4 linked regions of the Homo sapiens genome follow. The main gene of each other region encodes a partner of the protein of the gene in region 4 in a complex. Each region holds a gene or a part of one and is shown on either strand. Other genes may lie near its edges. The genes, in order: TMEM126B, ACAD9, NDUFAF1 and TMEM186.

Evidence for each region.
Region 1: TMEM186 (region 4) and TMEM126B share a complex: the UniProt entries of both Homo sapiens proteins name them as parts of the mitochondrial complex.
Region 2: TMEM186 (region 4) and ACAD9 share a complex: the UniProt entries of both Homo sapiens proteins name them as parts of the mitochondrial complex.
Region 3: TMEM186 (region 4) and NDUFAF1 share a complex: the UniProt entries of both Homo sapiens proteins name them as parts of the mitochondrial complex.

Annotation. Positions count from the first base shown.
Region 1 is NC_000011.10:85,623,720-85,631,592, reverse strand, and holds the start of TMEM126B (complex I assembly factor TMEM126B, mitochondrial), read right to left. Parts: upstream 3,001-7,873; 5' UTR 2,986-3,000; coding exon 2,905-2,985; intron 2,462-2,904; exon of another isoform or gene 2,352-2,461; coding exon of another isoform or gene 2,331-2,351; intron 449-2,330; exon of another isoform or gene 277-448; intron 1-276. Other genes in the region: DLG2 (disks large homolog 2), read left to right, coding at 4,976-4,994. UniProt on the Homo sapiens protein: As part of the MCIA complex, involved in the assembly of the mitochondrial complex I. Participates in constructing the membrane arm of complex I.
Region 2 is NC_000003.12:128,875,035-128,883,192, forward strand, and holds the start of ACAD9 (complex I assembly factor ACAD9, mitochondrial), read left to right. Parts: upstream 1-4,585; 5' UTR 4,586-4,657; coding exon 4,658-4,807; exon of another isoform or gene 4,808-4,983; intron 4,984-5,056; exon of another isoform or gene 5,057-5,077; intron 5,078-8,158. UniProt on the Homo sapiens protein: As part of the MCIA complex, primarily participates in the assembly of the mitochondrial complex I and therefore plays a role in oxidative phosphorylation.
Region 3 is NC_000015.10:41,386,165-41,392,499, reverse strand, and holds the end of NDUFAF1 (complex I intermediate-associated protein 30, mitochondrial precursor), read left to right. Parts: intron 1-3,977; coding exon 3,978-4,052; intron 4,053-4,906; coding exon 4,907-5,056; 3' UTR 5,057-5,147; downstream 5,148-6,335. UniProt on the Homo sapiens protein: As part of the MCIA complex, involved in the assembly of the mitochondrial complex I.
Region 4 is NC_000016.10:8,794,602-8,802,771, reverse strand, and holds TMEM186 (transmembrane protein 186), read left to right. Parts: upstream 1-5,132; 5' UTR 5,133-5,157; coding exon 5,158-5,160; intron 5,161-6,181; coding exon 6,182-6,820; 3' UTR 6,821-7,592; downstream 7,593-8,170. Other genes in the region: PMM2 (phosphomannomutase 2), read right to left, coding at 862-973, 4,824-4,889. UniProt on the Homo sapiens protein: As part of the MCIA complex, required for efficient assembly of the mitochondrial complex I.

The sequences.
Region 1 (7,873 bases), on a different chromosome or scaffold from region 4:
CAGTTTAGTAGTGTGCCAGGTACTGTGTCGTCTGCTTTCACATACTTTGTTAGTAATTCAATCAACATTTACTGAGCTCTTATTATCTGTTAGACATTGGCTTTTTGTTATTATTTTTTATTTTCTTGCTAAACATCCTACAATACAGACATTGGCTTTCTGATTTACACACTAACTTGAGAAATTGGTAGTATAATGATTATTTCTATACATATGAGCAAACTGAAGGTCTGAAAGGTTGGCTTGCTTGAGATTTAGTGTAGAAGGCTAACATACTGATACTGTTGCTGTTTTCCTCTCTCCTCATTCCGAGAAGGCAGTCAGGCTCTTTGTAGTTGTCCTCCTAGCTCTTCAGGTGGGGAGGTGGAAACAGTGGCTGCTTATTGACATCTCTATCCTCAGTTTCTCATGAAAGATTAAGTTCATTTTGGAAATCGTGTTTCATTTCCTAGAGAGGTAGGAGAGAGCAGGGATTGCCTTGGAGAATAGTGAGAGAGAAAAATCAGAAAGAGGGACACTGCTCCAGGAAGGGAACAGGCAGTGGATTGTGGCTACTACTTTGGAGTACATAAATTATATATCCAGTTCCCTATTACCACCTGTGGTGGAAGCAGAGCCTTTGCTAGAAATGGTCATGTGGTATAGCAGAGACCCATACCTGCCACCACACCCGGCTAATTTTTGTATTTTTAGTAGAGGCAGGATTGCACTATGATAGCCAGGCTGGTCTCGAACTCCTGACCTCAGGTGATCCACCTGCCTCAGCCTCCCAAAGTGCTGGGATTAAAGGCGTGAGCCACCGTGCCCGGCCCCAGAGACCCATGGCACTGGGCTCCTTGGTCGGAAGGTTCTTGTGTCCCAAGTGTGATGAACAGACAGCTGCCAATGTCAAGGGACCATGAAGACCTGGCCAGTAGCATCTTAACAGAAACTAGACAGGTTAAAAAACAAAACAAAACAACAACAACAAAAAAACAAACCCTGCACTCTCAGAGAGGATCGTTTCTGAATGTTTTGCTCTGGGCAAGACTCTAGAGTCTCTGTGAAAAGTCTTAATAACATTTGTTAAATCCAAACACGTGGTTGCAAATGTTTACCTACTACAGCAGCCAAGTGGAAGGTCTATTGCTGCTAAATTCAGTGCTTTTTACTCTTTTTCCTCCAGATTAGCTAAATAGTCTCTTTACAAATTTACACTAATCTCAATTTTAATGTTTATATTAAAGGGAAATACTAAATCTCAAATTTAAGGAGTCCTAGACAAGAGGATTAGAGGGGATAAAGCATAATGAACACACAAGATACTTAATAAATCAGTGGTTCTCAACCTTCAGCATGCACAAGAATCACATGGGGTATTTATTTGAAATGCAGTCTCATGAATTCCCTCCTGAGATACCTGGATTCAGCAGGAGTAGGATGAGGCCTAGAATCTGCATTTTAATAGCACTTAGTGCTTCTGATGCTGTAGTCAATGGACACATGTTGAATATCACTGTAATACTCATTTGCTGAATGAGCGGTATGTACCAATCCTAACTATAGAAGGCCAGTTCATTATACACAGTTCCTGGCATCAACATACAGAAGGTATGAGCTCCTTTGAACCTTCTTATGGTGTTACACAATGAGTAATAATGGACCAGTTTCTTTCTCTGCATCATGGCAGAAATGTACTCAATCTTTTTCTGTAACATTTCTGGAGAGGGCAGGGGGAAAAAAAGGTAAAATATTTTACAAATTACAATTTTTCAGTGACTAGACTTACATCTTTTCCCTCTCCCTGACACCCAAATGGAAAGTATAAGGGATAGTAACATCTAAGGGAGATTCTATACCTAACCCATCTATTGTACTAAGACATCTGCTGTCTTGGCAGACGTCAATAACATGAGTAACCATAAACCATAGATAAATTTTTGTTTTGCTCTCATCCAATTCATTGAAATCCTCCACCTTCCACCAAAAACAAAAAACAAAACAAACTTCCAGGCAATATCTTCTACTAATCTCCTACCTAGTCTACACCCTAAAGTCTCTATAGGGAAAACAGACACCCAGGATTATGATTACAGGACAGCAAATACTGAAATACTGGAAAGAACACAGGAAATATTTGAGTGCTTAAGCTTTGCAAGGCACTGTCAAAGACTCCAGTGCTTTCATTACACCCCTTCCCCCTTAAGGCCACTCAACTAGTCACCACGCTTATACCAGTAAGAGTGCATTTATGTAGGTTTATAGTTTGCAAATCATCTAACGGTTTTGTAGTGCTTTCATGTGTATTATTTTACCTAATAATAAATTTTTCACCTAATAATAAATTTCACCTTTAGAATTTTATTCAACATTCGCTCATAATTTAGGGAGCACGTGGTATATGCCAGACCTCCGGGTAATCAAGATACAGTCATCCCATCCTCAGGAATCCACAACGCAGTGGGAGTTCAGAACAAAAAAGCTGGCAATTTAAACACAGAATGAGAGAGTGACATAAACGAAAAACCCAACAACCTAAGAAAAAGCAAACAATCTAGCCAGAGGAAGCGTGGGAAGGCTTCCCGGAAGAAGTGACATTTAAATCAATAACCGAAAGAGAACAGTTTGGCAGGGGAGTTGGGACGGATAGAAGCAGGGAAATACTCCAAGTTGAAGAAAAAGCCTGTGCAAAGGCCTGGAGACAAGAGAAAACAAACTGCAGATAATGAGGACTAGAATTTAGGTCATCTACGTTCTCTCCGCCTCTTTCCACAGCAACTGGAGACTTAATCGACTGCTCCTTGCATGGACTTGGGAGCTGTTTTAACTTTTCAAATCTCCTTTAAAGGTATCATCTTAGAAGAGTCTGCCAACACTTTGAAGGTGCAGAAATCACCCCCCATACCACTTCGGATTTCCGCCTACCTTGGGCGCTTCCTCAGTTCCCACCGGCACCACACCTGAATCCCTTGGCTTAGTCCCAGCCTCATACCCGAACACCACCATTTTGGTGGCTCATGTGACTTGCCGGTGGGCGGGGACCCAGAACGCCCTGGGCGGGAAGTGGTGCTGATTTACGGCTCAACGCCTCTCGATTGCAGCCCGGGCCCGCCCCCACTCAGTCAAAAGCCGCGCCCTCCATCCTGACTGTGATTGGGCGCGGCGTCTAGAAATTACGGCCACTTATTCGCTTAGAGGAGGTCCAGGCGCCTGTGGGCCTGCCCCCCTCGCCAGCCGAGTATTTCCTTCCCTGACTATTTATCAGCTTAGCTCCCTGATCTCTTCGCGTCCTGCGGGAAAGATGGGGCGGCCCGAATGTTGTAATGTTACTGCGCTCCTGCCTCTCCTCAGGGCAGCTGGGAACTAGCTGCCTGCCCCTTTCAGTCCTTGAGGGAACTCGCCCCTTTGCCCTGGCCTGTGTGGTGTTAAAGCTCTGTTTCTCGGGCACCTCCTCCTCCAAACCCCGGACCAGCCGCCCAGCGCCGTCAGAGCAGCCCCGACTAGCCTCCTCTCCTCTCAGCCGTCTGACTCCTCTCCCCAGTCTGTAGTCCCCTCAATTTGCATCCTTTAGCCCCGCTTGGAAAGAGACCGGAGAGAAATTTGCCCACTACCCCCGCGAGAAGACCCACTTGTCAGCCGTGTCTCGGGGTGGGGGGCACTGCAAGGCCTGGCGCTGTTTTGTGCACGTTAAATGCCCAGCAGTATCTCCCAGACCGGCAACCCCCGACCCTCCAGTCTCCATGTCTTACAGAAGCCAAATTCGAGAGTTATATAATTTCTAGTGCTGCTGTTGCTCCTGCCTGAGGAAACACTTCATCGCGTGGAGGGTGCAGGACATTTCAGTGCTCTTCCCTAAAAGAACGGGGCTTGGGCAGGGGTGGCCAGCGGTGGCAAAGAAATGTCTTGTCTTTTCTGCAAAAGGAAGGTGGGTAGTTTGAAGAGAGATTGAGAGAAAAGGTGGATGTGAAAGCCAAGCAGCTGCACTTTCTCATTTAGGAAATCGCGGACCGTTTACATAGCTTATGCTTACATGTCTAATACTACTACGGCGTCTCTGAAAACACCTTTGGGGGAAGGTTTGGCTTCTCTCGAAGTCTCAGTGTTTTTCCTCGCCGGATAGGGAGCTGCTTGAATGCGAAGAGATGGCATGATGTGAATGACTCCAGTGTGAAGAAATCTGCTTCGCCAACTCATCCTGCATCAAGTGCCCATTGAGTAGCACTGTCACTTTAATGTCTCCATGCCAAGGGATTGCTTTCCTTTTTTTTCAATCCTCTCGGTTAATACATGGGAGGATCAGAATCAGAGGGGCATTAAGGATCAAGCCTGGGGGCTTGGAGAGCACAGAAGAAAAAAATGAAAGGGACAGCAAGCTGGATTCTGAGTTACTGAGGGGGTGAGATCCGGAACTTCTGATCAGTAAATATAAGGGGGCCTTTCAATGTGTGTTCTGCCACAGAAAACTGTTCAAACTCACCTATCTTTTTAGAGACTGGAGTCAAAGAGATTTTTAAAAGTATTTTTGGGGAGGTGGGGTTACATTTTTCTCTACAGATTTGAGTATCTTTATCATCATCTTTGAATTTGACCATGTATAAAGTAATGAGACCTGTCTAAATTTGGTTTGTGCCTTAATTGAGTTAGTCATTGAACTTCCAAAAATGTTGCTGCCTGAAGAGGAATTTCAGTAACGTTCTTCATGTTTACAATAATTTTCCCAGTTTGTAAAAACAGTCTAAATATTTTCTGAAAATTGAAAAACTTGAAAAACTAAAAAATTACGTTGCTGTAAACTCTGTGGGCGGTGTAAAAAGTTTAGTTGTGGAAAAAATACATCATTATTTTCTTTGTCTGACATAGAAGACTCAGCCTGGATTTCAAAACTGAACACTGAAGTGGTTTGCAACAGTTACCTGGCTCTTGGCCTCAATCCAGCTGGATCAAACTGAGACCTGAAAAGAGATATTGACTCCTGTGGCAGTGGAAAGACCCAAGAATGCCAGTCAAGAAGACAGGTGGGCCATAAGGTTGCTATATAATATTTCTCCCTTTTGTTGGTTCTGGTACTTGTAATTTAAATTATATTCCATTTGAGAGTAAAGTTTTGCTTCAGTTTGGGGGAAATATTTATTGTAATATAGTTTCAGTGGTACATAATTCAGTAATATTATTTTACTAAAGTAAAAGGAAGCAAGACTATAGTATTTATTGATAGATATTTATGATTTCATAAATCAGGTTGTTTATATCACCGTTGGTAATAAGAATAGATTCAGTACCGCAGATTTGGAGTCTCCTTTAGCTTGTTTTCTTAGCTTGTTGAAGGTTACTTTTAAGCAGTCTTTAAAAAAGAAACTTGTGCAGTGGAGCTCTTCCTCATGGGTTTAATATTTATCAAACTAATTACAGAATTGTGAAAGGTAGCAAAGTAATTTCATTTGCACTGAACAAAATTACAGCTTTATAATTTATCTTTTGGTTAAAAAATAGACTTATTATTTGGATTTATTCTAGTGTAAATCTTCACTTTTGTGATAAAGCACAACTTTCGTGACTATTGTGCTTTTCCAGATATATGCATTATCCAATAACATGATTGTCAAGTTCCCCAAATGGGGCAAACACCTGTTTTTTTCCTCCCTCCTCAACAACTTTTATTATTGGAATTGATCAAGATCTAGTGAATTCCTGAAGCATAGTTGATTATATTCTGAACTTGGGGATTCAGTTTAGCTTAGATGCACCCCAGGTTAACTTTGTTCCAAAGGATCCTAGTTTGGGACTGTTTTTGTTTTGTTTTGTTTTGACATTATATGGAAGGTGAGATCAACTGTAAAGAGTTTCTCAAGAGTTTTGAATCAAAACTTATATGAACAGCCTTGAACTCTGCTATACTGGACTAATATAGATCCAAATGTTGTCCAGTTATGTGAGTTGCTACAATCTGAAACTAAAGCTCTGGGTGAATTGCAGGTTAAAGTGGAACTTATCTCTGCATGGTGTTTAATTCTTCTACCTGTGGATTTGTTAGGGATGTTGAGGAAACTTATAATCACTGAGATGCCTTATCCAAGCTGATATTTGTAGAGATGGACAATGATATATAAAACTTTTGGAACACCTAGAACTGTGATATTTGCACACTGGGATTTAAGATTGGGATTGTTTCCTCCCCCTGCTGTTTCTAATAATACCACTGACAGAAGTAAACTGCCTGAGATTTTGGAGCCACACTTGTCCAGACCAGACACAATTGGTTTATCTAGAACAAGAATGGTTTTGGGAATGTAGCCAATAAATGATATGGCTCTTTGACATATTTAAGTTGATGTGTGTTTTTATTCTTTCTACCATTTCTCTAGAGAGTTTCTTTTGGATTACCTTATTTTGAACTAATAATGGAATTAAACACATTACGTGTGTGTGTGAGAGAGAGAGAGACAGAGAGGAAAAGAGTGAAAGGAAGAGAGAATGGGAAGGAGGAGAGACAGAGAAAGAGATAAAAAGGTATGTGGGAAGGAAGAGGAGGAAGGTCAATTGATATTCTAGGTATAACTTAACTAAGCAGGTTTAGTTAGAAAGTTTAGAACTTAATGTTTCTAAACCCCATAAACCGAGTTTCTTAAAAGTTCTTCCCTTTAAAGAACTGTTACAGAAATTGCTGATACATTGGTGAAATTATAATACTTTAGAAGAATTTCCTTTCTTTCCTTCTTCCTCTCTTCCTTTGCCTCCCTCCTTCCCTTTCTTCTTTCCTTCTTCAATAATGAATTGACTAATGGATTGAATTTTTAAAGGAATCAACAAGTTCTTATTAGAAAAACCAGTTTATATTTCTATGATACCAGAGTATATGTTGTATATTTTCCTTATAAACTGATCTAGAGAAACAATGTATCTTGCTTTTAATCTCTTAAAACTGCTAGTATTATGATACATATTCTTGAATATTATAGACAACTAGCCAAACAAGTTATGTGTATATTGTATTTTTCATTGGCTATGCTTACTATCTCTACTGTTTATATAATATAAGAACAGTATTTTTAAGTTTAACCTAGATTTATTCTGCAGGGATCACTGTCCTCTGTCACCTTGAGTCTTTTTCTCTCTTCATTGTTTCATGTGGTAGACATGACGAAAAAGCTAGACTTAATGTGATTCTAAACAATAACTATCCTCACTGAGCCAAGTGTTTATTCATTGTTGAACATATTCTCATTAAAGTATGAAATTTTCATAAGATGGATTTTCATTTGGTATTTAGTTAGTATATTTTTGTCAAAGAGAGAGGAGATTCTTTTACTGATACCATGCAACCATGGTGGGAATTGGGAATGGGTGTGACATCTCACTAAGCCCATTTCTAGGTGCCATTCTGGACTGCCCTTGGATAAGCTGAAACTACTGTGCCTCAAACCCCATATTAACTGCTCGTTTGCTTTATGACATTACTTTCTACTTCTCTCACTCTAGTCTCTTCGCATTTTTACAGATCTCAGTTTTATCAACAGAAGACTCTTCTGTTTCCTCATAGAAGGTTTTTTTTCCTCAGCAGTTGCTTTTCATTCAAGATTTTCTTATCTATAGTAGTAACTTTATTTGCTCCCAGGTGAGCCCTTGGGACAATCTTGGACATATTTTAATTTGTGAAAATTTAGGACCAATTCAGGATAAGTTGTATTAGTATTCTCTGATATGATGCAAGACCATAGTGTGTTATAAGGGTCTGTTTTAACAAGTCTTCTTGAATTGATCTGATATGATTTCCTACTGTGTTAACATAAGAAATAAAAGTTAATGATAGGTACGTCATTTGCCATGTTTTACAGCAGAAAGTTGCTGTTTTAAAGATAAAAATATGCTTTAACAGAATTTTCTAGTACAATGCAGC
Region 2 (8,158 bases), on a different chromosome or scaffold from region 4:
TTTAAAGATGGAAACAGATCTGAAAGATTTGTGTTCTTTCTTCGCCATGCTGCTGGGAGGCAGGAGATCCCAGGATAGAGCACCACACTGCCCCAGGTCCTGGGTAAAAGGGTTTCCCATATGTTAAAGACATAGCTCTGCATTTCCTAGCAGGGCAAGCTGCTTTTAGTCTGAGTCTTAGCTTCTGCATCTGTAAAGTTGCTTGCTATAAAGGGATCAGCCTGACAACCTCAGAGGAATGTTCCAAAGAGAAGCCAGGGAATAACTTCTGTGATACAGGATCAGCCAACATTCAGCCAAGCTGAAAACAAGGCACCCCTAGGAAGGGGGAAACGCTACTGTGTTTACTCCTATTTTGTAGATGAGCACACTGAGGAACAGGGAGGAAAAGTGACTTGCTCAAGGTCACAAGATCTTCTTGAGCCTGCACTGTCCATGTCCTCTGCTGCACAGTACCTTCCAATCTCCATGCACTACATATCTCACTGGGCTCTACAACATCTTCAAGTGAGACAAATCACTAGCTCCATTTTAAAGCTGAATGAATTGAACCCAAGGCTAAGCCTTTCACCTCTAAGAGGATGGTGTGTTTAATAACCTAGCTGTTACTATTGGCTGGGTTGTGAGACCTGTGGAAGTCACCCTGCAGCTAGATTTCTGCGGAACCTCAAAGGCGGGGGTAGGGCTAGGGCTCAGCTGGCAAGGAAGCCCACAGGCCACTAGAGGGTGACATGGGAGCGGCATGGCCTGAGATGTTTAAGAATCAGAGAGGAAGCCTTGCACATTTTGGTGTCAAAACACCGGAGTCGAGGGTCACTCAGTAATCACTCACCTGGGTTTTCCCAAATTGTCCTGATACGAACGCTTGTCAAAACCGTTTCTGCCCAGGCACTCCCTTTCCTAGCCCCTGCCCCCAAATTAAGTTCTTCCCAAGGGAATGTAAGTGGAAGGAATCCGTGATTTCTGTCCGGTTTTTAAAAGATGGGATCGTTCTTCGCAGTCTCCTCTTCCCCCAGCTCTAGGCAGAGGCCTCTAGGCCCTTGGGGATGGTGGTGTAAGGTGGAAGGGGCAGGTCTTTGCAGCAGCATCTGCAGGAAAGCCTTTCTCCTACCTTTTGATGGTTTGGTGGTCTTTGGCTTGTAAAATAATCAGTCCAATCTCAGCCTCAGCTTTAATAGTAAGGGATCAAGCAGTAGTTTCTACTCAATGTTCCTCATACCCAGAGTCAAGGATTCTGCTATGCTAACACTAACATTATGGCTAAAGAATGTTCACTTTCTGTTAAGTTATGTTGTGAATCAGTTGTATTGATGTGAGGAGACATTCAGAACTACCATGAGGATATTTTAAACAGTTGTTAAATCAAGTTTAGCCTAAAGCTGCTTCCTTATATATTTTAAGTTCGGCTTATAGGTTTTCTGCACATTGTGAACTATAAGTGGAGGCATAAACAGACCGTAGCCTATACTTGTGCCAATCACAGAGTTTTTGCCAATCAAATGTAGCCAACTGTTCAAACCATGTTCAAATAAGGCAAGGCAGAGCTGTAACCAATCCAGCTGTTTCTGTACCTCACTTTCCTTTGCTGTCCATAAATCTTCCATTACATGGCTGTGCTGGAGTGTCTGAGCTTGCTCTGGCTCAGAAAGCTGCCTGATTTGAATCGATTGCTCAATTAAACTTTTTTTCTTTTGAGACAGAGTCTTGCTCTGTCGTCCAGGATGGAGTGCAGTGGTGCAATCTTGGCTCACTGCAACCTCCACCTCCCGGGTTCAAGTGATTCTCATGCCTCAGCCTACCGAGTGGCTGGGATTAGAGGCACTCACCACCATGCCCAGTAATTTTTGTATTTTTGGTAGAGACAGGGTTTCACAATGTTGGCCAGGCTGGTCTCGAACTCCTGACCTCAAGTGATCTGCCCACTTCATCCTCCCAAAGTGCTGGGATTACAGGTATGAGGCACTGCACCCGACCCGGCCAATTAAGCTCCTTTAAATTTAATTCAGCTGAAGTTTTTCTTTTAGTACACTGAACAGGGGAAACTGTTTAAAACAACATCATATTTCTCAGAGGCTAATACTTAAATATAAGATGGAAGGATCAAAGTGTAACTATTGTCATTTTTATCACTTGCTGTGCTAAGTGCTTTCATGTGGATTTACTTAAACCTTTTAAAAGTCCTGTGAGATAAAGGGTATCATACTCATATTTACAGATGAGGAAACTGAATTTAGAAACTAGTATAGTAGTGAAACAGCAAAACTCTTCTGCTATACTCTATTGGAGCAATTAGAAACTATGCCTTAACATTTTTCTAATTTTTGTTTTGTAAAATTCTGTGCCACTGGATTTCTCATTTGGTTGATTTAGGGAGACCTGTGTACACTAAACATTTGACACATTAACAGAGTACTTGACTGATTTGACTACATTTGTTTGGCAAAAAAGTACAGCAGCTCAAAATTGAAACAGTTTTTGCAACATATGTATATTTTTCTTTGTTTTACCTATGGGGATAATTTACAAAGGCAGTTGTTTCCAAATACCTTCTTGTGAAGCTGAATGCTAAGCAAGTAAATATCAACCACTGATGAAGAAACCAGGTGAGAGACCTTAGACAAGGTAAAATAATCTGAAAAGATGCCTGCAAATATTTTGCAGTTTAGACTCTACGCCTTGCAGAGTTTTGAGCTCTTTTTTCTTGATGTTGTGTTAGCAATGTAATCTTTTTTGGTGCTGAGCTTAGCTTGCTGAGATGAAAGGGATTTCTTTTTCTTCTCAAGGAGTTGACACAATGGAAGCTGGAGGCATTTCCCAACACTGTGGTCAATGCTACAGTCGGGGAACAAGCAAGTCTCCCCCAAAACAGGGATCGGAGTTTTTAAGGATAATTTGGCGAGTAGGAGCTCGGGAAGTGGGGAGTGCTGACTGGTTGGGTTGGAGATGGAATGATAGGGGGTTGAAGTGAGTTTTTCTTGCTGTCTTCTGTTCCTAGGTGGGATTGCAAAACTTGTTGAGCCAGATTACCGGTCTGGGTGAAAAAGCAGAGTGGCATTCTTCCTGGAGGAGCTGGCTGAAGATCTGTAGAGGGCCCATGTGCCACGTTCAGAGCACTGTTGGGCTGTGAGGTGCCAGGCATGCCCTGCCTCCTACGTGGGCCCCTATGGCCTGGCCTTGAAACCGCCACTGCAAAATTATAACCGAGACAATGAAAGAGATCTGACCTAACCAACTCCATCTTGCTTCTAACCTCCAAGCTGTCCTTGTTCATTCCTGAGCGTAGGCTGAACTAACCTTGGGAAGGAATGAGTTTATAGTTTAACTTCAAAACAAAAATAGCCCTTTCCCGGGAAAACAACAACAACAACAACAAAAAACAACCTCTTCTTGCCTGGGACCAGTTGGCCTTTGGAGGACTAACAAATTAGCTATAAGATTAGAAATTACAGTTTAGAGGCCATACAGCCTTTGGTTGCAAGAGTCTGAACGTCCCCCAAATTGTTCCTGGGAATAACATCACTGTTGTAAAACCTACCAACACCCAGACTGGTAATCTGGCTCAACTAGTTCTGCAATCCCATTCAGGAACAGAAGACAGCAAGAAAAACTCACTTCGGCCCCCTATCAGTCCATCTCCAACCCGACCAATCATGCACCTCCCACTTCCCGAGCTTCTACTCGCCAAATTATCCTTAAAAATTCCGATCCGTTTTTGGGGAGACCGATTTGGCTAATAAAACTCCCTTTCCAACACACCCGGCTCTGCGTGAATTACTCTCTCTCTATTGCAATTTCCGTCTTGATAAATCAGCTGTCTAGTCAGCGGGCTGTAACCTTGGGCGGTTACAGCCTGGCCTGTCCCATCCCATCCAATAGTTCCCATCTCTTCTCAGCTCTCTCTGTAGTTTCTCTTCCTCCGCCTGCCTTTTAAGTTAGTGTTTCCCAGGACAGAGGTGACTCAGTTGTATCCAGACCGCTCTGTGACTGAACACCCACTTTCTTTTCCTTTTCCAAAAAATATATGTAACATACATGTCAACTAGGAACAAAACAGTATCTCAGGAATCCACCATCCAGTTAAAAATGGACCCTTACCCTTACCGTGCCCCTGCAGAGACCCCAATACAGCGCATTTCCCTCATTCTTTTGCTTTTCTCAAGTTTTACCACGGCCTCGTGGCCACAAGTGACAAAAGAGACAAGTGGAGGCAGCTGAGCCGGCCTTTAGGTTTCTGTACACAGGGAGATTTCCCATGGCTGGCATTTATGGAAACAACCGCTGGTATGTGAAAAACAGGTCCGTCACCGCCGTCACGACGGCCAGAGATTATACCCGCCGAGATGCCCGCGGCCCAGGGCCTACAATTTCCTCCGGCCAGCTCCTTTGGCCGCGCAAGCGCAGTGGGGCCGGCGGGAAGCGTAGGCGTGTGACGTCATCAGGCGGCGCGGGCCAGCCAGGTGCACGTGACTAAGGCCTTGGGCGCGGCAGGTGGTAGCCTTCCCGCCCTTCTGGCCTCTCCATCCCCTGCTGCGGGGGACCGCGCAAGCGCAGTGAGTACTGCACGTTGTCGCGGGCCAGTAACGTCATCAGACGTGTGTGTGTCCCTGCGGCGCTAAGAAGGGGAGACTGAGGCTGAGGCTGGGGAACATCGGGCAGCATGAGCGGCTGCGGGCTCTTCCTGCGCACCACGGCTGCGGCTCGTGCCTGCCGGGGTCTGGTGGTCTCTACCGCGAACCGGCGGCTACTGCGCACCAGCCCGCCTGTACGAGCTTTCGCCAAAGAGCTTTTCCTAGGCAAAATCAAGAAGGTAACGCGAGCCCTGGGCGAACCCTTGCTGTCTGGCTCCCGCTTTTCACCCTCAGCTGCAAGACTGGTGTTGAACTTTGTGAGATTCCCCAAACCTGCCAGAGAGATACACCCTGCGGCCGAGGCGTGTTAACACTCCGGATTCCTGAGTTCCAGGAAAACCTTCCCAGAGAAAGGGTGAGACATTTCCAAGACGGGGGACCCTTGGAAATGTGGTGGTGACGTGTTCCAGCTAAATTTTGTCAGGGGAATTCGGAAAACTCTAGGCTAGGTAATTAACAAAGCAGCCTTCATCTCAGCTGGTCTGGTCTGGAAATGTGCGGGGCTTCCTCTCTGATTCCTAAACAGCTTACACCATGTCCCTCCTCAGTCACCTTCCAGCGCCCTGGGGCTTCCTTCCCCAGGTGAGCCCAGCGCCTCTCCCTGCCATTGAGGTTCCTCAGAAATCTGGCTCCAAGATGCTTCCCAAGGGTGGCACAACCCAGCCAATAGTAACAGTTTGGTTATAAAACACTCATTGTCTTCTTAGAGTTGGAAGACTTGGGTTTGGTCTTGGCTCGTTGACTTTGAAACTCAGTTGTTTTTTTTGAGACAGAGTCGCGCTCTTGTCGCCCAGGCTGGAGTGCTCACTGCAACCTCCCTCCTGGGTTCAAGCGATTCTCCTGCCTCAGCCTCCGGAGTAGCTGGGATTACAGGCGCCTGCCCGGCTTTTTTTTTTTTTGTATTTTTAGCAGAGACGGGGTTTCACCATGTTGGCCAAGCTGGTCTAGAACTGACCTCGGGTGATCCGCCCACCTCGGCCTCCCACAGTGCTGGGATTACAGGGGTGAGCCACCGCGCCCGGCCAAGACTCAGTTCTTTCAGCCTTAAAATGGAGATAGTGTTGTGTCTCCTTCACAGATGTGTTGTAGAGCCCCAGTGAGATAAACGGTGCATGGAGAGTCTTCTTAAACTGTAGAGTACTGTGCAGCAGAAGAGAGAGCTGGCTTCAACACTTAGTCTTGTGACCTTGGAGCTGACGGCTGCACCTCCCTGTGCCTCAGTGCATTCATCTACAAAATAGGAATAAACACATTTCTTGCTCTTTCCTTTGTATTTCATTTTATCTTCTAAGGAAACCAACAGTATACTTGCTATTTCGTCGAGGTGCCCTACTTTGAACTTGGCTGAATGTTGGCTGATCCTGTATCACAGAAGTTATTCCCTGGCTTCTCTTTGGAACGTTCCTCTGAGGTTGTCAGGCTGATACCTTTATAGCAAGCAACTTTACAGATGAAGAAGCTAAGACTCAGACTAAAAGCAGTTTGCCCAGCTAGAAAGTGCGGAGCTATGTCTTGAACATATTGGAAAACCTTTTACCCAGGACCTGGGGCAGTGTGGTGCTCTATCCTGGGACTTCCTGCTATCCAGCAGCATGGTGAAGAAAGAACACAGATCTTTCAGATCTGTTTCCATCTTTAAACCTCTGGCACTACCTGCCCTGCCCTGCCTTTACTCTCAGCTGTCAGCTTTGCTTCCCATTCCACTGGGAAAATCCATGCAGTCGGATGAGAAGTTCACAGGCACAGTTACCCCCTCCCGCTGCATATGTGCCGGTATTATCTACATTCTGTTACTGTGAACTGTCTGCTCCTGGCAAAACCAACCTCTCATTAGACTCCAGGTCTTCTCACCTACTCAAGGGTAATTCTTTCCTTTCTCTGCATCATTAACTGTTCTCTCTACTGGATCTTGAGCCCTTACCATTCAGGCATTTGTCCCTAATGGCCATAGAAGTCAGTAATGACCTCTCTGTTATCAAATTGTGTGATCTGTTCTCAGACCTCATCCTACTTGACCCATCATTGGCATCTGACACCGTTCATCCTTCCACCCTGTTGACGCACTTTCGTCTCTGGTTTCTGAATCACTGTTCTCGCCATTCTCTGAATGTTCTAAATACTTCACTGGCTGATACTTCTCTGTGTCCATTGCTGGTTCTTATTCAGCTCCTTGACCGCTAAACAGTGACCAGTGTTTCCAACTAGCCAAGTTGGAATTTACTAAGGCTGGGTCTCGTTTCATCTACAGCCATCTGCTGGGTGACCTTATTTAGTGTCCTGGCTTTAAATATCATCAATATCCTGATGCCTCAAGTTTCTTTCTTCAGTTCAGATTTCTCCCTGAACTCCAGATTCCTTTTGCTTTTTCAGAGTTGGGGGCTTTCTCTGTCACCTGTGCTGGAGTGCAGTGGTGCCATCATAGCTCACTGCAACCTTGAACTCCTAAGGCTCAATAGATCCTCCCACTTCAGCATCCCCAGTAGCTGGGACTACAGGCACGCCCTGCCACACCCAGCCAAGATTCTTTTTTTAATCTACCTTTGTACTCAAAAGCTGTACTAAGAGGTCTAACAGGCATTTGAGATTAATAGATCCCAAACTGAGTTCCTGGTTCCCACCCAATCCTGCTCCTTCCACCAGCCTTCTTTATCATAGATAATGGTGGCTCTGTTGTTCCACCTGTTCAAACAGAACACCTGGAGTCACCTTGTACTCTTATTCTCCTAGTCCACTTCTAATTCCACAGAAGATCTGGTTTTCTCTACTTTTAGGTTCTTAGAATCTGACCACTTTTAGGCCCTTCTGCTGCTACTTTGGATCAGGCCAGTGTCATCTCTCACAGCCTTACTGGGATTAGAGCAGAAACATGGGACATGATGCTTAGAATCTCAGATTGTGTAGGCCAGTGGTTGTCACCCTGCCCTAAGCTGGACCCAAGCTATTCATGGAGTGTCCTGGAACTGCTGCAGGGATGGGTGGGAAGTTGAGTGGGTGGGATTTGGGTGCCTGTTTTCCCTATCAGCAGTCTCAGTCAGAGCCGCCTGCTTCTGTCTGTTTTACATATTTGGTTTCTGCACTAGATTTCTTTGAATAACAGGTTCCACTTTTTTAGATAATTTACAAACTGTTTATTGCAATTGAACTCTCCTCCCCTAAGGCATTGACCTGATTTGATAACATCAGGATCTTTCTCCCACGCCCCTGCAATCTCTCCTGTGTGGCAGGTTTTCTGTGGTTGTACCTGAAGGCCAATTAGTTGCCAGGCAGTCTTATCTGGCCTGCCCACTGGTACCAGAATGATCTCTAACACAGCCCATTGCACAAGACCCAAGTGTCAGTGAGCCTCTGTGTTCAGTGAAGGAGACTGAGCTTTGATATAAAAGGCTGCAGAGTGATGGAGCCATCAGCTTGTTTTTTTTTTTTTTTCTTGTTTTTTTTTTCCTTGAGACAGTGTCTTACTCTGTTGCCCACCCTGGAGTGCAGTGGTGCAATCACAGCTCACTGCAGCCTCAACCTCCCCAGGCTCAGGG
Region 3 (6,335 bases), on a different chromosome or scaffold from region 4:
CTTCACCTGGTCCCTCCCTTGACACATGGGGATTACTACAATTCAAGATGAGATTTTGGGTGGGGAGACAGCCAAACCATATCAGGACCCTTCAGTGGTTTCCCATTACAATTCGAATAAAGTCCAGGCTGGGCTAGGTGGCTCATGCTTTTAATCCCAGCACTTTGGGAGGCTGAGATGGGCAGATCACTTGAGGTCAGGAGTTTGAGACCAGCCTGGTCTACATGGTGAAATCTTGTGTCTACTAAAAATACAAAAAATTAGCAGCAGGTGGTGGCACACGCCTGTAGTCCCAGCTCCTCAGGAGGCTGAGGCAGGAGAATCGCTTGAACCTGAGAAGTGGAAGTTGCAGTGAGCCAAGATCGCGCCACTGTACTCCACCCTGGGTGACAGAGTAAGACTCCATCTCAAGAAAAAAAAAAAAAAAAAAAAAGAATAAAGTCCAAACTCCTGCACATGGCCTATGGGCCTACAATATCGGACCCCTGTCTTCATCTTCCATCTCTCCTCCTGTCTTCATCTTCCATCTCTCCTCCTACCTCCTTCCTCCACACCAGCCCCTTTTCTGTCAGATTTAACAACCTCATTTCCATCTCAGAGCTTTGCACTTAGTGTTGCTCTGCTGTAATGCTCTGCCCCCATGTCTTCACCTGCTTTCTCTTTCCTGTCATTCACCTCTCGGCTCAAAAGTTGCCTCAGAGAGGCCTTTCCTGATTCCTGTAACTAAAGTTGGACCCTCTAATCCAGTTATTTCAACACCACCATCCTATAACTTTCTTCATAGAACTTATCACTAACTAAAATTACTTTGTTCATTCATTCATCTGTTTATTGTCACTCTACTGCCTTCCCTGGAACATAAATTATATAAATTCTTTTTTTTTTTTTTTTTAAGATGGAGTCTCACTCTTACTGCCCAGGCTGGAGTGCAGTGGTGTGATTCCAGCTTACGGCAACCTTTGCCTTCCAGGTTCAAGAGATCCTCCTGCTGGGACTACAGGCGTGTACCACAACGCCCGGCTAATTTTTGTATTTTTAGGAGAGATGGGGTTTCATTCACCAAGTTGGCCAGGCTGGTTTCGAACTCCTGACATCAAGTGATCCACCCGACTCGCCTCCCAAGGTATTGGGATTATAGGCGTTTGAGCCACCACACCTGGCCCTAAATTCTGTAAATTCTGTGAGAGCAGAGATCTTGCTTATATTGTTCCTACCAGTTTCCCCTGTACCTAGAATTTTGTCCTAGTGCCTAGCACAAAATAAGCACTCAATACATACATATATATGTAGTAATACAGATATATAACACAAATTATATATACTTGTATTTAAGTAATATATATATAATGAATTATTATACAAAATAACTACTTCATTATAAAAACAATTTGGGAAGTACAGAAAAAAATCTTGTACTACCACTATCCAGTGATAAAATACTATTTTTATTTTATTTTATTTTTATTTTTGTAAGACAGAGTCTCGCACTGTCGCCCAGGCTGGACTGCAGTGGCGGGATCTCGGCTCACTGCAAGCTCTGCCTTCCAGGTTCACACCATTCTGCCTCAGCCTCCCGAGTAGCTGGGACTGCAGGTGCCCACCACCACGCCCAGCTAATTTTTTGTATTTTTAGTAGAGACAGGGTTTCACCGTGTTAGCCAGGATGGTCTTGAACTCCTGGCCTCATGATCCGCCCACCTCGGCCTCCCAAAGTGCTGGGATTACAGGCATGAGCCACCATACCCAGCAGATAAAATACTATTTTTTTTTTTTTTGAGACAGAGTCTGGCTCTGTTGCCCATGCTGGAGTGCAGTGGCACGATCTCTGCTCACTGCAAGCTCCGCCTCCCGGGTTCACGCCATTCTCCTGCCTCAGCCTCCTGAGTAGCTGGGACTACAGGCACCTGCCACTACACCTGGCTAATTTTTTGTATTTTTAGTAGAGACGGGGTTTCGCCGTGTTAGCCAGAATGGTCTTGATCTCCTGACCTCGTGATCCGCCTGCCTTGGCCTCCCAAAGTGCTGGGATTACAGGCGTGAGCCACCGCGCCTGGCACAAAAATACTATTTTTAATATGTATCTTCTACACTTTTCTAGTCACACTTTTCCCTTCCAGTGGTGTTTTATAACATATATACAGTATTTTCACTGAACTATTGTTTACAACTTTCTCTTCAAATATATTTCTACATCATTTTTAATGTCTGCATGATATTATATAAGTAGACAACAATTTTGGCTGGGTCCAGTGGCTCACATCTGTAATCCTAGCACTTTGGGAGGCTAAGGCAGTGAATCATTTGAAGCTAGGAGTCTAAGACAAGCCTGAGCAACATGGCAAAACCCTGTCTCTACAAAAATACAAAAATTAGCCCAGTGTGGTGGCATGTGCCTTTAGTCCCACCTACTCAGGAGGCTGAGGTGGGAGGATTGCTTGAGCCTGGGAGGTCAAGGCTGCAGTGAGCTGAGATCACCCTACTGCATGCACTTCAGCCTGGGTGACAGAGTAAGACCCTGTCTCAAAAAAAAAAATTTTTTTTTCTTAACTTGTTCTTCATTATGTACATGTAGATTTAGATTGTTTTCAGAGTTTTCTACTGTCGGAACAAACTCTGAGGTAAACATCCTTAACTATTTTCATAGGCTATATTCCTAGAGATAAAATTACTGGAATAACTATTAATATGTATAATTCATTTTTATTTATGTTCATTAAAATTTATTTACTTATTTGAGACAGGGTCTCTCTTCTGTTGTCCATGCTGGAGTGCAGCATGGGCTCGCTGTAGCCCCAACCTCCCAGCCTCAGGTGATCCTCCCACCTTAGCCTCCTGAATAGCCAGGACTACAAGGATGCACCACCATGGCTGGATAAGTTTTTTGTTTTTTTACTAGAGTCTTGGTTTCACCGTGTTTCCCAGGCTGGTCTTGAACTCCTGGGCTCAGTTGATCCTATTGTGTTGGCCTCCCAAAGTGCTGGGATTACAGGCATGCACAACCAGGCCCAGCCATTTTCTTCCTTTGTTAAACTCAAAATATAAATAAAATTAGCATACTCTGTACCTGTTTTTTGTGTTTTTAAAATTTAGGAATATATCCTGGAGAGCTTCTGTATAATTATTTAGGCAGGGTGTGGTGGTTCATACCTGTAGGCCAAGGTTGGCAGATTACTTGAGCTCAGGAGTTTAAGACCAGCCTGGCTAACATGGTGAAACACCGTCTCTACCAAAAAAAAAAAAAAAAAAAAAATTAGCCGGGTGTGGTGGTGTGCGCCTATAGTCCCAGCTACTCAGGAAGCTGAGGTGGGAGAATCGCTTGAACCTGGGAGGTGGAAGTTGCAGTGAGCCAAGATGGCACCACTGCACTCCAGCCTGGGTAACAGAGTGAGACCCTATCTCAAAACAAAACACAAACAATTAAAGCCAGATATAGTTTTAAAAGATCGTGCTTAATAATAAGTAAATTACATAGAGAAGAAATATGAAAATAAAGTTGATGAATAAAAAGGCACACTTGAAAGTTCAAGAGTAGAAGGAATAGGACATTTCTTTTAGTTCAGTTTCTAATGTAGGAAGGAAGGGAAACGTTAAAATTCTTTTTTCTTTTTTTTCTGAGATAGAATCTAGCTCTATCGCCCAGGCTGAAGTGCAGTGGTGTGATCTTGGCTTACTGCAACCTCTACCTCCCGGGTTCAGGCAACAAAGTGAGACCCCATTCTCCACAGAAAGAAAAAAAAAAAAAAGCTGTGTTTAGGATACTAGTCTTTTTTCCATAAATGTTACAAATATTTTTTTCATAGTTAACCCTTTATCGTTTGGCCTGAGTTATATCTTTGATCCAAATGGCTAGCCATTTGTCATAATACATATATGACATAATTTTAGAATAAATGTAAACTCATTTTATCGTTACAATTACATGCAGATGCCTCAATTGCTTACATTTCAGTTATGAAGTAAATGGTTTCTTCTTTCAGATTCCTTTTTCCAAATTTTTCTTCTCTAATCGAGGAAGAATCCGGGATGTTCAGCATGAGCTTCCGCTTGATAAGGTAACATATTCCTGTATTTTTCACTCAGAACTGTATCATTTTTAATGAATCGGAACTCTGGGGAGACTGAGTTCATTTGAGAAGGCTGGCAGATGAATATTTCTTCTCAGGGCCACTGCTCTTATACCCAGCCAGAGGCTGACTTAGACCTCTCCTATGAACCATACCCCCATCCTGAAGGAATTTTAGAAGGATCATTTTTTAGCATGCCTACATTTTACTTTAGCTATTTTCCCCCCTCCCTTCTCTCCTAATTTAGCTTTAAAATAAGAGTTTATGAACGCTTCAAGGAACTCCATTAGGCATTCATGTCGTCCTTACTAGTCTTTTTGTTTTTTGACATGGAGTCTTGCTTTGTCACTCAGGCTGGAGTGCAGTGGCATGATCTCGGCTCACTGCAACCTCTACCTCCCGGGTTCAAGCATTTCTCCTGCCTCAGTCTCCTGAGTAGCTGGAATTACAGGTGCCTGCCACCACACTTGGCTAATCTTTGTATTCTTAGTAGAGACGAGGTTTTACCATATTGGGCAGGCTGGTTTTTAACTGGACCTTGTGATCTGCCCACCTTGGCCTCCCAGTGTTGGGATTACAGGCCTGAGCCACGACGCCCGGCCGTCCTTCCTAGTCTTAAGTGGCACTACCTAATGAGGAGAGGGGAGGAAGTTGAATGAGGAAAGAAAAGCAGTCTTGTATTTCCTCTTACAGTATGCTATGGGAGAATTAGTAGTATTTGCTAAGGGCTGATAGCATTAAAACCCAGTTATAATCATCACCTGATGGGATTTTAAACTCCTGGAATAATCTCAGTACGTCACTGTATGAGATTTTAATCAATTTCTGTATTTTAAATTTAGATCTCTTCTATAGGATTCACCTTGGCTGATAAAGTGGATGGTCCATTCTTCCTGGAGATAGATTTTATTGGCGTGTTTACTGATCCAGCTCATACAGAAGAATTTGCCTATGAAAATTCTCCAGAGCTTAACCCAAGGCTTTTTAAATAAAGATCATATGGTAGTTTTGTTTTACTAATCTAAGGGTACTAGCATCTACAATGATATAGACAAAATAAAATATTTCTTTAATGGCATCCAACCAATGGCTAGTATGTATTCTCTCTCTTTTTTTTTTTTTTTTTTGAGATGGAGTTCTGCTCTGTCGCCCAGGCTGGCATGCTGGCGTGCAGTAGCGTGATCTCGGCTCACCGTAACCTTCGCCTTCTGGGTTCAAGCTATTCTCCTGCCTCAGCTTCCCGAGTAGCTGGGATTATAGGCATGCACCATCATGCCCAGCTAATTTTGTATTTTTAGTAGAGACAGGGTTTCTCCATGTTGGTCAGGCTGGTCTCGAACTCCTGACCTCAGGTGATCCGCCCGCCTTGGCCTCCCAAAGTGCTGGGATTACAGATGTGAGCCACCGCGCCTGGCTGGCTAGTATGTATTCTCTAAGACAAGTTATAATGCTGTTGCTGGCCAGGCACTGTGGCTCACGCCTGTAATCCCAGCACTTTGGGAGGCTGAGACGGGCGGATCACTTAAGGTCTGGAGTTCGAGACCAGCCTGACCAGCATGGTGAAACCTCGTCTCTACTAAAAATACCAAAGTTAGCCAGGTGTGGTGGCACATGCCTATAATCCCAGCTATTTGGGAGACTGAGGCAGGAGAATTGCTTGAACTCGGAGGCAGAGGTTGCAGTGAGTTGAGATCACGCCACTACACTCCAGCTTGGGCCACAGAGCGAGACTCTGTCTCAAAAAAAAAAAAAAAACCCACAAAGAAAGGCTATTGCTAAGAGGGACTGGATAAGGGGAACACAGCATGAAACCAGGTTCTCTGGTGTACTTTATCTCATAGAATGCAAGTACTGATGTAAATGTACTATGTAAATAACTTAGTGTTTTTGCTCAGAACAGTTGCTGTTAGGAACATTTCCTATATGAGTAGTTTCTAAGGCAGGAGTCTCTGAGATGACTGTTAATGGCCTTCTACCACTCTGTTGCATTTAGATTTCTTCTAATTTCATTTTGTTTTGCTTTTTTGAGATGAAATTCCCTCTGTTGTCCAGGCTGGAGTGCAGTGGTGCGATCTCGGCTCACTGCAACCTCCGCCTCCCAGGTTCAAGCGATTCTCTTGCCTCAGCCTCCCCAGTAGCTGGTATTACAGGCCCACACCACCATGTCTGGCTACTTTTTTTGTGTTTTTAGTAAAAACAGGGTTTCACCATGTTGGCCAGGCTGGTCCTGAACCCCTGACCTCAGGTGATCCGCCCAAGGCAATAACTCAG
Region 4 (8,170 bases):
TGCAACCTCTGCCTCCTGGGTTCAAGCAATTCTCCTGCCTCGGCCTCCTGAGTAGCTGGGATTACAGGTGCCCGTCATCACGCCCAGCTCATTTTTTGTAGTTTTAGTAGAAATGGGGTTTGATCATGTCGGCCAGGCTGGTCTCAAACTCCTGACCTCAGGTGATCCATCCGCCTCGGCCTCCCCAAGTGCTGGGATTATAAGCGTGAGCCACCGCGCCTGGCATCCACTTACAATTTCTTACAGGCCAGGAGGCCCTGTGGCTATGGAGATGAATAACCCATACTCCTGCTCTTCAAAAACATATAATCGGATAGTTTACAATAATTACAGAATGCTACATTAGCAAGGTTGTACACTAGAATCTCTCAGAGGTACTCACTGAAATAGGATTCCCAGGCTCCACAGACCTATCAAGTCAGACTCTCCAGTGAAGGGGTCAATAAGCCTCTCTGGTTTTTCGGGGTCCTGTGCTGGAGATTCTGTTTCAGTGATGGGGAGGTGAGGGGGGCTGTCAGAGGGACAATATGAAGACCGGTCTGACTGGGGCTAGAAGGGCTGTCAACGGGTACAAGCAAGAAGTATTCCAGGCAGAGAGATTATCATGTGCAGATACAGCCACTGACCTTTCTAGGTGAATCTACTCACACATCTGAGTACCCAGTTCTCCATCAGTAACTCCAGAAATGTACTGGATTAAAAGCAGAGGAAAAGCAAAGGCCAAGAAAATGTTTCCCAAAAAAGGAAGCAGAAAGCCCGCCATATGGGGACAAGGTTTTAGGGCAGCCTATGATACTTGGCAACAATATCCTCATAAGAAGTTAATCTTTTACCAGATGTAATTAGCAACCCATCATTTACCATCATTTCCCAGTTGCTCCTGCACTTTCTCAAAGTCCGATCCGCCTACCACTCCGATTTTGATCTTCTGCCTCAATTTTTGTAGGAAGTCATCCATTTCTTTGGTAATTTTCTAAATTTCAAGAAAGAAAATACAACAGTCATAAGCCACACAATAATCAGGAGACCAAAACTCTAAGGGTAACACAAGTACATAAGTCTTATTTTCTTATTTAAAAATTAAAGAAAAAATTTTTTTTTGAGATAGGGTCTCACTTGTCACCCAAGCTGGAGTGCAGTGGCATGGTCATAGCTCATCGCAGCCTCGACCTCCCTGGACTCCGGTGATCCTCCTATCTCTGCCTCCTGAGTAGCTGGGACCATAGTTATGTGCCAGCACACCTGGCTAATTTTTTTATATTTTGTAGAGACTAAGTTTTGCCATGTTGCCCAGGCCAGTCTGGAACTCCTGGGTTCAGGAGATCCACCAGCCTTGGCCTCCCAAAGTGCTGAGATTACAGGTATAAGCCAGGTCTATAAGCCTTATTTTCATACATGCCAATTAAGTTACCAGCTCTGTACATAGTTCAAATATTTTAGTTGTAACTGGGGGGGCATCTTTACCAGAATAAACTTAAGTGTTATTTTTACCAAATTTTAAACACAGGTAATATGTTAGTAGCTGTTGTGCACTGTCCCAGCTATTTTTCTATGCATTTATATACCCATCTATGGGCACATATACAAATAGGTCTTATTTTTGAAACATAAATGGAATCATGTCCTGTGCAGGGACTTTGGTTTTTCAGCACTATGCTGTGGTGATCTTTTCATGCCAACACAGATCTAGCTCATCATTCCTTTTAAATGCTACACTATACTCCATTTATGGATTTAAGTTGTTGATTTTAAAATAAAACAACATAATGAAATTAAAGAGGAAGCTTAGGGCCAGACATGGAGGCTCATGCCTGTAATCCCGGCACTTTAGGAGGCCGAGGCGGGTGGATCACCTGAGGTCAGAGTTCGAGATCAGCCTGGCCAACGTGGCGAAACCCTGTCTCTATTAAAAATACAAAAATTAGGCGGGCGCGCTGGTGGGCGCCTGTAGTCCCAGCTACTCGGGAGGCTGAGGCAGGAGAATCACTTGAACCCGGGAGTCAGAGGTTGCAGTGAGCCAAGATCGTGCCACTGCACTCCAGCCTGGGTCACAGAGCGAGACTTCGTCTCAAAACAAAACAAAACAAAACAAAAAAAAAAAAAAAAGGAGAAGCTTAGAATTGATTTTATTGCAATCACCCAAAACAAAACAAAAATGTAAAAGAGTAAGATAACTAGATTTTTTAGTCTCTTCTAAAAGCAAAGCTCCTATCTAGAAAGAGTGGTCTTAGTGGTATAATCTTATGGTAAATTCCAAACTGTGTGATAATTTTAAAAAAGTTATAAACTAAGATGAAAAAATAGCCCTACATTAAGACACATCACAATGTATTTTTACAAGTCTTATAACTCAGCACTTTGAGCAATCTCAGTTGTACATTTACACTGAATGTCTTTTTTTTTTTTTTTTTGACACGAAGTCGTGCTCTGTCACCCAGGCTGGAGTGCAATGGTGTGGTCTCGGCTCATTGCAACCTCCACTTCCTGGGTTCAAGCGATTCTCCTGTCTCAGCCTCCCAGGTAGCCAGGATTACAGGCGCCCGCCATCATGCTCGGCTAATCTTTTTGTATTTTTAGTAGAGACTGGGTTTCACCATGTTGGCAAGGCTGGTCTCGAACTCCTGACCTCAAGTGATCCACCCGCCTCAGCCTCCCCAAGTGCTGGGATTATAGGCATGAACTACCGTGCCCGGCTGAATATCTTTTTACTAGAAATTTAGAAAATACAAAAAACCATTTAATTCAACCTCAGTATATAAACACTTGGAGTTCAATGATTTTTCTTTAAAAAACTTTTTTAGAGTAATACATGAATGTGATTAAAATTGTACAGAAGGGTTTGTAATAGAGTGCAATCTTTTCTACTCTCACAGTGGAATCTGGACCTATTAGACAGAATCTAGAATTGGAGGAGTGGCCTTTAAAAGTCAGAACACGGTGGCTCACGCCTGTAATCCCAGCACTTTGGGAGGCCGAGGCGGGTGGATCACGAGGTCCAGAGATAGAGACCATCCTGGCCAACACAGTGAAACCCCATCTCTACTAAAAATACAAAAATTAGCCAGGCGTGGTGGTGCCTGCCTGTAGCACCAGCTACTTGGTTGCCTGAGGCAGGAGAATTGCTTGAACCTGGGAGGTGGAGGTTGCAGTGAACTGAGATTGGGCCACTACACTCCAGTCTGGTGACAGAGTGAGACTCTGTCTTAAAAAAAAAAAAAGAGTCAGAACTGTGAAAATCAGAAAATCAGAAGCACTTTCCTGAATGGCATACCCAGTGACTAGAACAGCTTCCACCTTAGCACAGATAGGAAATGGCAAACTTGACAGGAACCAATATCCTGAGGCCCAGAGACTTGTACCAGGTTGGCTGTGTGAAACTGAGGAGGTTAGTTCTTCACTGAGTGTGTTTCCTTATGTTTAAAACGGTAATAACAACTATCCTACCTGGGAAGAAAGATGGAGGAAGGTTGAGAGGGTTCAGTGATATGAAAAAGGGTGGCAATGTAAACCCTAGACCACTATGGCCCACAGACCACATTGGGCAGCTGTTTGTTTTTGTAATAAATAAATAAAATTTTATTGGTACACAGCCACTCTTATTTATATAGGGTTTATGGCTGGTTTTGCACTAAAGTTGAGTGGTTACTATAGACCACATAGTCAGCAAAGACAGAGAAGTATTTGCTATATGGCCCTTTACAAAAAATGAATTGGGGACCGGAGTTTTAGACCACTATGGGCTTTTAACAAACCCAAGTGTGTGATCACTGAATTTCAGAATCAGAAAAAGCCTTTGAAGAACTTGGGAGTTGAGCGTCATCACTAGGTAAATCAAACCTGTGGCTGAGAAGGGCAAAATGATACGTCTAAGGTCACACGCATTTGACCTGGACTTCTGGAGCACACCATTGTTACCACCAAGCGAAAACTATGAGGGGTGAGGGTAGAAGCTGAGGATAGTGAGACCATTGGGGTCCAGTCTCAAGTTGAAATGGCCAGTGTTCAGTGGCCAATTTCTGAAAAGGGGCCAGGAGAGCCTCACCTCAAGGCTGATCGTAACTGAAACTTATCTGTGCCTGTAGCAGCAAAATCTGAAAGTGGAAAGCAAGTTTCCAAGGGCCCAAAGAGGCTCTCAGCGGGCAGCCTGTAATAACCTAGGGCTCCTCCATCTCCCTAGTCCATTGCAGGGGCTGGAGATGGGTGTGGTGGAGGTGGCTACTATTTACTGAGGCCTAGTGTGTTGTGTCCAACATACTTTCAAGAACTTACACAATCTCATTTGATCCTCACAGACACCATATGGAACAGGTAACATCCCCATTTAAAGCTGTAGATGTTGAGGCTCAGAGAGGTTAATGACTCGCTGAAGGTCACACAGATGTCAAGAGGTGAAGATGAGACTCCACTAGGTCGGTTTGACCTGGAAACCTGTTTTTAATATCATGACTCACGGCACAGCCCATTGGTTACAGGATTGGGGCCGACACATAGCTGATAAGGGGGCCTGATCTTGGGTTGAAATCCTGGTCTATCAGTCCCGAGCACTAGCGGTGAGTCCAGATTACATTTTCCAACCTAGCACAAGTTTCCTGCTCTTAAGAGTTCTTCAGCCCCGTCTCATCTTTCCAAGCACCAGAGCTCTTCAAGAGCTGGTTAGGGCCTCCCTCTCATTCCTCCAGTGCACCCAGAATAGGGTTCAGCGCCGTGAGGACGTAGGCGGTCCTTAGCCACCCCTTGGCGCCTACCCTGGGTGGTCGATAGCCCCAACTGGGAACAGCACGGGCTCCGCGTCGGCTGCCAGCAGCCCGCCGGCCGCCACTTACCTGCCGCGGGGCGGTGAGGGTCCCATCCACGTCGAAGAGGCAGAGCGCTGGGCCAGGCGCTGCCATGTCCCCAGTTTCTAGCCGCACCTTACAAGACACGTTGGCACGAGGAACTCGGCCCGGAACTTCCGGGTTCGGCCGCTGAGTCGCAGGGCACGTCGGGAAGAGGAGGGGACTCCGTTCCCATAACGCCTGGGAGTAGCGGCAGCCACGATTCCTGGACCGCAACTCCCAGGGTGCAACGCAGATCACGCCCGCCTTGTACATTCGAGCATGCGCTCTTAGGGGTTCCGGGGGCCGGTGGGATTTACTTCCGGCAGCAGGTGGTGGGGCCATGGTAAGGAGGCGGGTGGCGAGCCTTGAGGGGGTGATGCTCTTTGGGGTCGGGGTCAGGGCTGGGGCGGGCAGGCCCGACGCTCGGGTTTCGGACTCCGAGGATCCGTGGGAGGAAGCTCTGGCGTGTGTTACAGTTCGCTTTTCCCGGGCTTTCTCTTGCCCTCCTTGGGTCACATGCGCACAGTAGTAGTAGCTAAAACTCGCCGAGCTCTCACAGTGCATTAGGTACTAAGTTGAGGACTCTGAAACCATCCTCTGGTTCACTGTGTTCTGAGTCCCCATTTTGAAAGGCGAAGAAACCGAATCTCAGGGGTGTGGAGTAATTTGCTCACAAATTACTGTTGGAGCCAGAATTGGAATAAGAGCTTTTACTGCTTCACTACCCACCTAGTAATACCCTTGTGCTACGTGTTGGGGCCTCCCTGCCTCGCTCCTTCTCCTTCTCCGCTGTTTCCCCTTCCCCAGACTAGGCTAAGAGAAAGCAGCAGTTCCCTCCAGCACCCAAGATAGCATATGAATCAAACAGAGAATTAGAAAGTTTATTGGAATAAATATCTCACAGATTTGTTGCTCGAGTTCCCCACTAAGACACTGATTATTTAGTTTCCTGCTTGGGGAAATGTTCACACCCCCTTGTGGATACATTGTCCAGCCCAGAGTTTGTCCTCCCTGGATATGTTTTGAATTAATGACGGCCGCACCTCCTTTCCTGTATTTATTTGGAATTGCCTGGTGGAAGGAGGACTCTGCTGCACTCACTGACTGTGTGATCTTTGGTAAATATCTTACCCTCTCTGGGCTTAGTTTCCCTAGTGGTAAAGTGGAAATAGTGATAACTATCTTAGATAGCTGTTGTGATGCCCACATGAGATAGCATCTGGCTTTACCCTTCCCTCGTCTGGCAATAACGGTTACCTTGCAGGATTGGCAGAAGCCTTAGAGTATGGTGCTTTGCAGATGTTCACCGTGTGATTAATGTGGTTGAGTTCCATGAGAGAAATGGTCTACTGTCTCCCTTTCAGGCTGCCCTTCTCCGAGCTGTGCGTAGGTTTCGGGGAAAAGCTGTGTGGGAAAGGCCTCTCCATGGGCTGTGGTGCTGCAGTGGGCAGGAGGATCCTAAGAGGTGGGTGGGCAGCAGTTCACCCATCTCGAAGGAGAAACTACCAAACGCAGAGACTGAGAAATTCTGGATGTTTTACCGTTTTGATGCCATCAGAACCTTCGGGTTCCTGTCACGACTGAAGTTGGCACAGACTGCCCTGACAGTGGTAGCTTTGCCACCAGGCTATTACTTGTACTCCCAGGGCCTCCTCACTCTCAACACCGTGTGCCTCATGAGTGGGATATCGGGCTTTGCCCTGACCATGCTGTGCTGGATGAGCTATTTCTTACGGAGACTGGTTGGTATCCTGTATCTGAATGAGTCTGGCACCATGCTGCGGGTGGCCCATCTGAACTTCTGGGGCTGGCGGCAGGACACATACTGTCCCATGGCAGATGTGATTCCCCTGACAGAAACCAAGGACCGGCCTCAGGAGATGTTTGTGCGTATCCAGCGGTACAGTGGGAAACAGACCTTCTACGTCACCCTGCGCTATGGACGCATCCTGGACAGAGAGCGTTTCACACAGGTGTTTGGGGTACATCAGATGCTCAAGTGAACAACTGGGACCTGGACCTCTGGGTAACCCTGGGTCGCCTGGATTAACAGGAAGGCTGAGGGTGTGGGCAAGGCTGAAGAAAGGGGACTGGGTACTTGGAGACTTTGCCTGGGCCCCTGGGAACATGTGTTTTGTGGTGAATAAATTCACAAGGCAAGAGCTGGTGTACAGGTTTAGGAAAAAGGCTCTAAGCAAGTTCTTACAGCACTTGTTTGTGACATTCAGTCAGATAATGGCCAGAAGTTTTTGTTAAGAGCCAGTTCTTAGAAGAACCTATGCCAAGGTCACCCATAGAGTCCATTGGTGTGAAAGAGAAAGGCAAAGAGGTGTGGCGGGGGAGCGTAAGATTTGGAGTCAGAAGTCTCAGTTCTGTCATTTGTCCTGGAGCAGGTTATTGAGTCTCTTTGAATCTTGGTTTTCACATCTGTAAAATGGAAAGTCCTGCTTGTTTCATGGGATGGGTGTGGGAATAAACAATAAATGTCAAACGTGTGGCAGACTCAACAGCCTACAGCAGATATTATTAAGCATTTGGTCAGAGGTTTTAGCAGGGAGAAAGGCTTCGAGCAGTCAGCAGGGACTTCCAGAGCCCTGTGCTGTGCCCCTCACATATCCAGCGGCAGAAGGGTCTGTCAGGATGTTAACTACACATTGACGAGCAGATGTCGTCCAGGTAGGCACGAAACCCCAGTTGAGATTTGTTCACCACCCAGAGGTCTAGAGGCTCTTGCTTTGGATGGCCCTGCAGTGTAATAAAGCCAAATGCACCGGATGCTGGTACGTTATTTTATAAACTTAAGCCAGTTATATACATTGCCCCACATAATTAATAATATATGTTCATTATACAATTTGTAACACAGTAAAGAGGAAGGAAGGCATGATCTTTATTATTTTGCCACTCGAAAGTCAATAAGAATGTTTTATCGCTGGGGGCGGTGGCTCACACCTGTAATCCCAGCACGTTGGGAGGTCAAGGTGGCGGATCACGAGGTCAGGAGATCGAGGCCATCCTCGCTAACAGGGTGAAACCGTGTCTCCACTAAAAAATACAAAAAAATTAGCTGGGCGTGGTGGCAGGTGCCTGTAGTCCCAGCTACTCGGGAGGCTGAGGCAGGACAATGGTGTGAACCTGGGAGGCGGAGTTTGCAGTGAGCCGAGATCACGCCACTGCACTCCAGCCTGGGCGACAGAGTGAGACTCCGTCTCAAAAAAAAAATATTTTTTTTTATTGTGTAGCCTTCCATTTTTCTTAACCATACCAAGATACACCTAACAAATTTATCCTTTTAATCATTTTTAAGTGTGCAATTCAGGGACATTAAGTATATTAACAATGTTGTACAGGCT